3 separate regions of the Homo sapiens genome follow, and all the other regions are linked to region 2. Evidence: fine-mapped expression QTL. A gene starts in region 2. Each other region holds a variant in brackets. All regions are shown on one strand. Distances are between the middles of the regions. Region 1 overlaps MAP3K15 (mitogen-activated protein kinase kinase kinase 15). Region 2 holds the start of PDHA1 (pyruvate dehydrogenase E1 subunit alpha 1). Region 3 has its middle 100 kb from the start of ADGRG2.

Region 1 (2,760 bases), 25 kb before region 2:
GCCGAGCGGTGCAGGCCGCGGTCACCATTCTCATCCCAGGTGAGCGCCCCCTTTGTGGTCAAGGTCAGCTTTAGGCCGTGAAAAGATAAGAAATATCCTCTTCATTCAACAGTTGTTGCTTTTCTCTTTTCCATCTTGGTTATCTACTTCCTTGGAATTAAATGCATGTTGTCATAGACTTCTTCCGGGGCTGATTCTGTAGTTCTGAGAGCATCTCGTGGTGCTGTATTTACGTGTCCCTGAAGCATGATGAAGGTGACTACACATAAACTATAACTCACAATCTCAAAAGGGAGCATGGGGCCGGACGCGGTGGCTCATGCCTGTAATCCCAGCACTTTGGGAGGACGAGGTGGGCAGATCAGCTGAGGTCAGGAGTTCAAGACCAGGCTGGCCAACATAGTGAAACCCCGTCTCTACTAAAAATACAAAAAATTAGCCAGGCTTGGTGGCACGTGCCTGTAATCCCAGCTACTCGGGAGGCTGAGGCAGGAAAATCGCTTGAACCCGGGTGGTGGAGGTTGCAGTGAGCCGAGATCACGCCACTGCACTCCAGCCTGGGCAACAGAGTGAGATTCCGTCTCAATAAAAATAAACAAATACATAAATAATATTAAATTAAAAGGGAGCATGGGGCCAGAGGGGAAGGATCCTCCAGTCCTCTGGTATCCCCTTCATCGTGCACTCAGGAATGTTTCTTGGGTAACTGACAATACAGTGGCTCAGATTCCTCTCTCTGAATCATCATGTAGTAGTTACAGAAGTTTTTGGTTTTTGTCAATTTCCTTTTTGAAATGTTACCAAAGTTGATTCTCCTTCTCTGGTGACTTCTTCCTGCTAAGGGAGGCTTTACAGCCCATTCTGTCGCCATCATGGTTTCCCCCTTTCCTTCAGCTCCTTGCTGTTTGGCTCCAGCCCACCCTCCCGAATGCACTGTGTAGCCCAGGCTCAGCTGCAGGAGAGGCTTGGGAAACCCCAGTGCTTAATTCCTCTCCCACTCCAAGCAGACACCTTCTGTAGTAAAACGGCACAGGCTTGGGTGGCAGCCTGGCTCTACTTATTTCTTTCTTTTCTTTTTTTTTTTTTCTGAGACAGAGTCTTGCTCTGTCACCCAGGCTGGAGTGCAATGATGCGATCTCGCCTCACTGCAACCTCCATCTCCCAGGTTCAAGCAATTCTCCTGCCTCAGCCTCCGGAGTAGCTGGGGCTACAGGTGCGCGCCACCACACCCAGCTAATTTTTTTT[A/TA]GTAGAGACGGGGTTTCACCATGTTGGCCAGGATGGTCTTGATCTCTTGACCTTGTGATCTGCCCGCCTCAGCCTCCCAAAGTGATGGGATTACAGGCGTGAGCCACTGCGCCTGGACCTGGCTAATTTTTGTATATATTTTTTAGTAGAGATGGGGTTTCACCATGTTGGCCGGGCTGGTTTCAAACTCCTGACCTCAAGTGATCTGCCTGCCTCAGCCTCCCAAAGTGCTTGGATTACAGGTGTAAGCCATTGCTCCTGGCCTGGTTGTACCTTTTGAACGCTGGCCTTGGTTCACTTCATATCCTTAAGCCTCAATTTCTTCCTGTGGAAACTGGCGTGATCAACTTTACGCTGCAGAGAACCAAATGGAACAGTCTCTTCTCCATTTGTAAAGTCAGCAGTCCCCTAATGGAGCATGGCACGGGCTGGGCCAGCTTCTGAACAGCCCGGTTTGCTGACCTGGGTGTCTGCGACCCCAGGCCCCACTGGCCTGGTTTGCTCACCATTGTCATGTCTTGTGTGATTTGCAGAGCTCCGAGCCCACTTTGAGCCTACCTGTGAGACTGAAGGGGTAGATAAGGACATGGATGAAGCGGAAGAGGGCTATCCCCCAGCCACCGGACCTGGCCAGGAGGCCCAGCCCCACCAGCAGCACCTGAGCCTCCAGCTGGGTGAGCTCAGACAGGAGACCAACAGGTGAGGAGCTTCTGGGCCCTCCTCTGGGAGCAGGCGCTGGGACAGTGGCCTGAGCCACCAAGATGCTGATTAATTGGCTTTATTGTTGACCATCTCACCCAGGTCTTAGGAAAAAGCAGCTTCATCATCCACGAACTAGGCAAGGGCGCATATTCTCAGCCTCAATTGAGGGACTAGAGGAATGCCTTCCTTTAAAAAAAAAAAAAAAAAAACTCAGAATCAGAGAGGTATATATAGTACCTTGCCCCAGACCACACAGAAATTACTCATACTAAAGGCAGCAGCATCTGTGAATTCTTTCTCTCTTTTCACCAAGACGGGGCCCCTGGCATGGTGTGTGGGTCTCGCAGGCTCAGCAGCCTGCCCCTGCAGAAGTAGCAGGGTTTGGGGGTTGGTTAGCACTTCATCAGTGGATGTACATCCCATAATCCCGACCCCGAGGAAGTTTGTCCTGTTGTCATTTCTTCCATGTGATTTGTCATGATCCCTAGACGGGCATTAGTGGACTAGCTTCCCAACCAGGGAACCCTGGCATCACCATCATATTCCTCCAATGCACTGGTCTGTTTTGTTCACTTCCTGGCACATAGTAGGTGCTTAATATTTGTGAAGTGGATGGGCGTGGTGGCTCACGCCTGTAATCCCAACACTTTGAGAGGCCGAGGTGAGTGGATCACTTAAGGTCAAGAGTTTGAGACAGCCTGGCCAACATGGTGAAACCCCATCTCTTCTAAAACTACAAAATTAGCCAGGTATGGTGGCGCACGCCTGTAATCTTAGCTGCTTGGGAAGCTGAGGCAGGAGAATCGATTGAAT
Region 2 (2,760 bases):
TCTTGCTCTTGTCGCCCAGGCCGTAGTGCAATGGCACGATCTCCGCTCACTGCAAACTCCGCCTCCCGGGTTCAGGCTATTCTCCCGCCTCAGCCTCCCGAGTAGCTGGGATTACAGGAGCCCGCCACCACGACCGGCTAATTTTGTATTTTTAGTAGAGACGGGGTTTCACCATGTTGGCCAGGCTGATCTCGAACTTCTGACCTCAGGTGATCCACCTGCCTCAGCCTCCCAAAATGCTGGGATTACAGGCCTGAGCCACCGCACCCGGCAGTTTTGTCATTATTTTAGGCAACAGGATTCCTAGAGGGGCATACCTCTTACCTTTTGACAATCTCTGCCTGTACTAAGTAGAGCGGTATCAAGTCCTGGGGGAAATACCAGAATCCCGAGGCCTGCAGTTACACCAATTAACACGACCTCACTGTGCCTAGGGGGGTCAGAATGCTAGCTCAGGTGTTAGGCACCTCTAAATGCTGAGGCCATGAAATAGTGCTAAACTCTACCCCCCACCCCTCAAGCATCGTTGCTCTTTGCTTTAGCTACTTGTACCCTAAGAATGTGTAGGTAAGGGGAGGGGAGGGCAGCGTCCTCTGAGTTCTGCTTCGGCGCTCCTGAACTCACTGCCAAGAAAAGCTCAGATGTTGAGGGAGAGGGAAGAGGAGGAAGTTTGTTTCTGAAGAGGCTGACCTTCTGTGAACCCGCCTCAGAACTGAGCACAGGTGTTCAAGAAATGTATACCGAACTGGAGACTCAATAAATAACACTATTCAACACACATGTTATCGATTATGTGCCAGGTGCTATTTGGAATCGTTTCCACACGTGTCACTCGTTGAATCCTCAAGACAACCCCAAGAGGTGGGGACTCTTATTATCTCCATTTTAGAGTTAACTGATAACATTTCAGAGATAACTCTTATCTCCATTTAGAGATTAACTCCACTTCGAGCAAACATTTTAGGAAACCGGGTCCCCGGGACGTTTAAAAACTTGCTCAAGGTCACAGGGCTAGTCAATGGTGAGGGTGCTGTTTGAACGAAGCCACCCTGTCTCCAGATTCTACGCTATTACAAAGCCTCTCGGTCAAGAGAAATTAAGTTAGAAGATCCGAAATGAGTGGGGTCAATTGGAGACTCGAAGGAGGCCGAGGCCACCCTTTCCGTGTCCTGTAACCCAACAGGCACCTCTTGAGCACACCGACTTCGCCTGGCGCACAGCTGGGCCCGGGGGCGGGAGGTGGGTGTCGAGAAGGGGGAAGTTCACACGGACCTTGGCGTGATCCCGGTCCGTGCCGCTTCTCCCGAGGCCAGGAACGGAATGCAGGGCGCGGAGGCGAAGTAAAGGCTCCCCGGCTCCCCTGGCGCCTTCCACCCCGCTCTGGGTGGCCCGGCCTGGCCCGCCCTGCCCTCCGGCCCCGCCTCAGCCCCACTCGCGCCCCATCCCGGCCCGCCCGGGAGGTCTCACCGGCTTCTGAGAAGCGCCAGACAGCACGCGGGAGACGGCGGCGAGCATCTTCCTCATGAAGCACAGGCAGTGGCGGCAGCGGCGACTCCTCACAACCCAGGAGGCACGACGCGGGTGCCCCCAAGTCTCCTTCAGGTGCCCCAGCAGACGCCACGCCTCAGTCGCACCGCGGCGTGACAGAGTCGTAATAACGTCATGCGCTGCGCCGGGCCGCGGGCCAACCAGAACGGCGTCCAGGGGGTGCCCCGCCCCCGCTAAAGGCCTGAGGCTGCCCATTGGGTATCAGCGCCAGAGAGGGAGGGGCTGAGGGCTCTTTCCGACGCCACGCCGCGGGCGGGTGAGGAGGCGGGGCTTGATAGCGCCTGCGTGGGAAGGTGGGGCCCCCGCCTCCAGGGCGCCGCGGGAAAGGAGCCTTCCTAGATTCCGCTCTGCTGACTACCGGGGAGGTTGTGCAGGCCCCGTCCTACCGAGCGCCTACTCCTGCCGGTGCTGCAGCTCTGCAGCCCTCGTTCAGTACATCTCGTTCAGTACACTAGATGATGAAGATTAGCAGCATGCTCAGAGCCAAAAGACAGAACATCTGGTTTCTGTAAATGGTCTGCCACTAACTTTGTCTTTAAAAGATCACGTAGCAGTTGGACAGTTCTGCCCTGTCTACTTGAACGCGGATCAAAAAATTTGTTTCCCAATATATGTCGAGAGGACAATGGGAAAAATCTTTTTTCTCTAGTTATTGGTTCACAGGCTCACTGCGAGTTAACAGCGTGGCTCAGCCGATGATAAAAGCACACACAGAGACAAAACACCAAAGCAACAAGGGGCTCTATTCAGAGGATCAAAGGGCTCAGGAACCCATTGTGTTGTGTCCTAGTGGGATTGCACCTGGGGTTCCGGGTTCAGATTTGGGCTCCACATTTTAAGGGGGATAATGAGTAAACTGAGTGGAATCCAGGGGACAGTGGTCAGAACGGTGAGGGGCTGCGATTGTGACTTATGAAGAACGATTAAAGAAGTTAGGAAGAAAACAGGCTAACTAGAATTGGCTGGGTTATGATGTAACAACTGACCTCCAAATTTCAGTGATTTCAAGAATTTGAAGTGACGCGAGCCATCGTACTCGTAACACAGGTCCCTCACAGCGTGGCACCCTCTCTCTGGAACTTAGCTTGTCTCATGGATGAAGAGAAAAGGGATCATTTAAACCGGCTCTCAAAGCTTCTGCCCAGAAGTGACACATGTCACTTCCTCTCAATTTTCACGGACCAGAGCTAGTTACCCGACCATGTCTGAGTT
Region 3 (2,760 bases), 120 kb after region 2:
GGGGCGTGATGGCACATGCCTGTAGTCCCAGCTACTTGGGAGGCTGAGGCAGGAGAACTGCCTGAACCCAGGAGGTGAAGGTTTCAGTGGGCCGAGATCACGCCACTGCACTCCACCTGGGTGCCAGAGTGAGACTCCATCTCAATAAATGAATGAATAAATAAATAAATGCAATTGCTTTTTGTAGGTTGATTTTTTTTTTGCTACAGCAAAACTACTAAATTCTCTTATTAATTCTAGTTTTTTTTTTTTAGCTTTCTATGCATACCATAATGTCGTCTGTGACCAATACATTTTTGTTTCTTTTTAATCCTTATACCTTTTGTTTCTCTCTCTTTTCTTACTGTACTGGTTAGAATATGCAGTCCTGTGTTGAAAAGAAGTGGCTCAGCCTGGACAATATAGCAAGACCCCATCTCTACACAAAATTTAAAAATTAGCCAAGTGGCGGCACACACCTGCAGTCCCAGCCACTCGGGAGGCTGAGGTGAGAGGATCACTTGAGCCGGAAGGCCAAGGCTGCAGTGAGCTGTGATTGCACCACTGCACTCGAGCCTGGGCCACAGAGTGAGACCCTGTCTCAAAACAAAAAAGAAAAGAAGTGGTTATAGCTGCCACTTTTTGTTGTTCCTGATTTTAAGGGGGGAATACATTTAATGTTTCAATATTAATTATGATATTTGCTGTATAGTTTTGTAGATACTCTATATCCAGCAAAGGAAATTTCCTTCTTAACTTGCTAAGAATTTTTATAATTAATGGATAATGTCCTCAAAAAATGTTTTTCTGCATCTATAGAAATTACCATGTGCCCTTTCTTATTTATTTTGGTACTATGAAGAATTGTATTAATTGATTTTCTAATCAATTAAACCCTAAACTGCTGAGGAAAAGTCATCGTGGTCATTTTTGTCATTTTTGTATATTGCTAGATTTTGTCTAGGATTTTTGCATCTACATATTTCTGAGAAAACTAGGCTTGTAATTTTCCTTTGCCATGTTCTCTCATATCCTCTCTGTCAAGTTTTAGTATCGAGGTTATGCTAACCTCAAAATGAGTTGGCAAGTGTTCCCTCTATTTCTATAATCTAGAATACTTTGTATGTGATTAGAATTGTTAGTTCCTTTATTATTTAGTAG[A/G]ATTCATTTGTAAAATAAGGAGCTAAGTATCCAACTTCAGTAGTGAGAAAAGAACAGGATAACCCGAAGAAGGTAAAAGGAAGAAATTATAAATATAATAACCAAAATAAGGAAATGAAAAACAGAATGTTTTTCTGTTGACAAAGGAATGTTGACAAAGCCAAAATTTAGTTCTTAAAAAATCCAAAATAGGCAAACATATAACAAGATTAATTCAAAGAAAGAAAAGTGACAAGAATGAACCATATTAAGAATGTAACCATAGATCAGTAGTTAAAAATATAAACAACTGATTCAGGGGATCATGGTGGATGGGAGGCAGGACTAGATTGCAGCTCCAGATAGAGCAGCGTGTGGAGGCTTGCACTGTGAATTTTAGCTCCAGATTGACTGCAAGAACGAAGCAGCAGTTCTGTGGGTCCCCGGAGGACCCACAGACCCTTTGAATGAAGTGAACTGCTCCTGCAGGACCCGGGAGACCCCCCAAAACTATGAGTGCCCCAACTGCGGAAGTGGGAAAGGGAGACCCTCCTCTGCCGAACACACCCCCGCACTGGAGAAGCAGAAGGTCTGTTTGTGGGAGAAGTTTCCTACTTTACCTGGGGCTGAGTCAAGTTAGAGAGCGGAGCGAAATACAAGGGTAGAGGAAGCAGCAGAATAGCCCTGGGAGCTCGCTGGGTCCCCAGGCAGCCCATTCCTGCCTGGTACCACAGGAATCCATTGGGAGGGTGGCCAGAGGAGCAGGTGGTTAAACTCCACAGGGAGAAGGAATTCTCCAGCTGAACTTTGTAACAATTTAAATGGGGTGAGAAGCCTCCTGGCCAGAACTTGGGGGAGGACACAAATCCAGAGTGCAGACTTCACAGGTGGGGGAAGAATTAAAGCCCTTTTCTCTCAAAGCTGGGAGGCAGATAGCCTTGGGCAAATTTTCAAGCGGTCTTGTCTCGCCCTCCCATGCTTATGGATGGGTAGAATCAATATTGTGAAAATGACCATACTGCCAAAAGCAATCTACAAATTCAACACAATTTCCATCAGAATACCACCATCATTCTTCACAGAATTACAAAAAGCAATTCTATAATTCATATGGAACCTAAAAAGAGCCCGCATAGCAAAAAGAACAAATCTGGAGGCATCACACTACCCGATTTCAAACTATACTATAAGGCCATTGTCACCAAAACAGCATGGTGCTGGTATAGAAATAGGTACATAGACCAATGGAACAGAATAGAGAACCCAGAAATAAACCCAAGTACTTACAGCCAACTGATCTTTGACAAAGCAAACAAAACATAAAGTGGGGAAAACACAAACAAAACGTGGGGAAAGGACACCCTTTTGGTGCTGGGGCTATTGGCTAGCCACATGTAGGAGAATGAAACTGGATCCTCATCTCTCACCTTGTACAAAAATCAACTCAAGATGGATTAAGGACTTAAACCTAAGACCTGAAACTATAAAAATTCTAGAAGATAACATTGGAAAAACCCTTCTAGACATTGGCTTAGGCAAGGATTTCATGACCAAGAATCCAAAAGCCAATGCAATAAAAACAAAGATAAATATCTGGGGCCTAATTAAACTAAAGAGCCTTTGCATGGCAAAAGGAACAGT

What was found. PIP is the estimated chance that this variant, and not a neighbour inherited with it, causes the effect. A credible set is the group of variants that fine-mapping cannot tell apart.
Region 1: its variant is the best candidate, but not a certain one, in a credible set for the expression of PDHA1 in blood mononuclear cells (TOPMed, PIP 0.77).
Region 3: its variant is the best candidate, but not a certain one, in a credible set for the expression of PDHA1 in lung (TOPMed, PIP 0.50).

What each region holds. Positions count from the first base shown.
Region 1 is chrX:19,368,238-19,370,997 of GRCh38, reverse strand. It overlaps MAP3K15 (mitogen-activated protein kinase kinase kinase 15), which reads left to right. Exons shown (of 29, transcript NM_001001671.4): 24 at 1-39; 25 at 1,779-1,944. Among named protein-coding and RNA genes, the nearest start is that of PDHA1, 26 kb to the right of the region's middle. The variant A/TA (reference allele first, on the strand shown) is at 1,246.
Region 2 is chrX:19,342,802-19,345,561 of GRCh38, reverse strand. It overlaps PDHA1 (pyruvate dehydrogenase E1 subunit alpha 1), which reads right to left and starts at 1,635. Exons shown (of 11, transcript NM_000284.4): 1 at 1,468-1,635. The coding sequence starts at 1,524.
Region 3 is chrX:19,221,091-19,223,850 of GRCh38, reverse strand. No RefSeq gene overlaps it. Among named protein-coding and RNA genes, the nearest start is that of ADGRG2, 100 kb to the right of the region's middle. The variant A/G (reference allele first, on the strand shown) is at 1,141.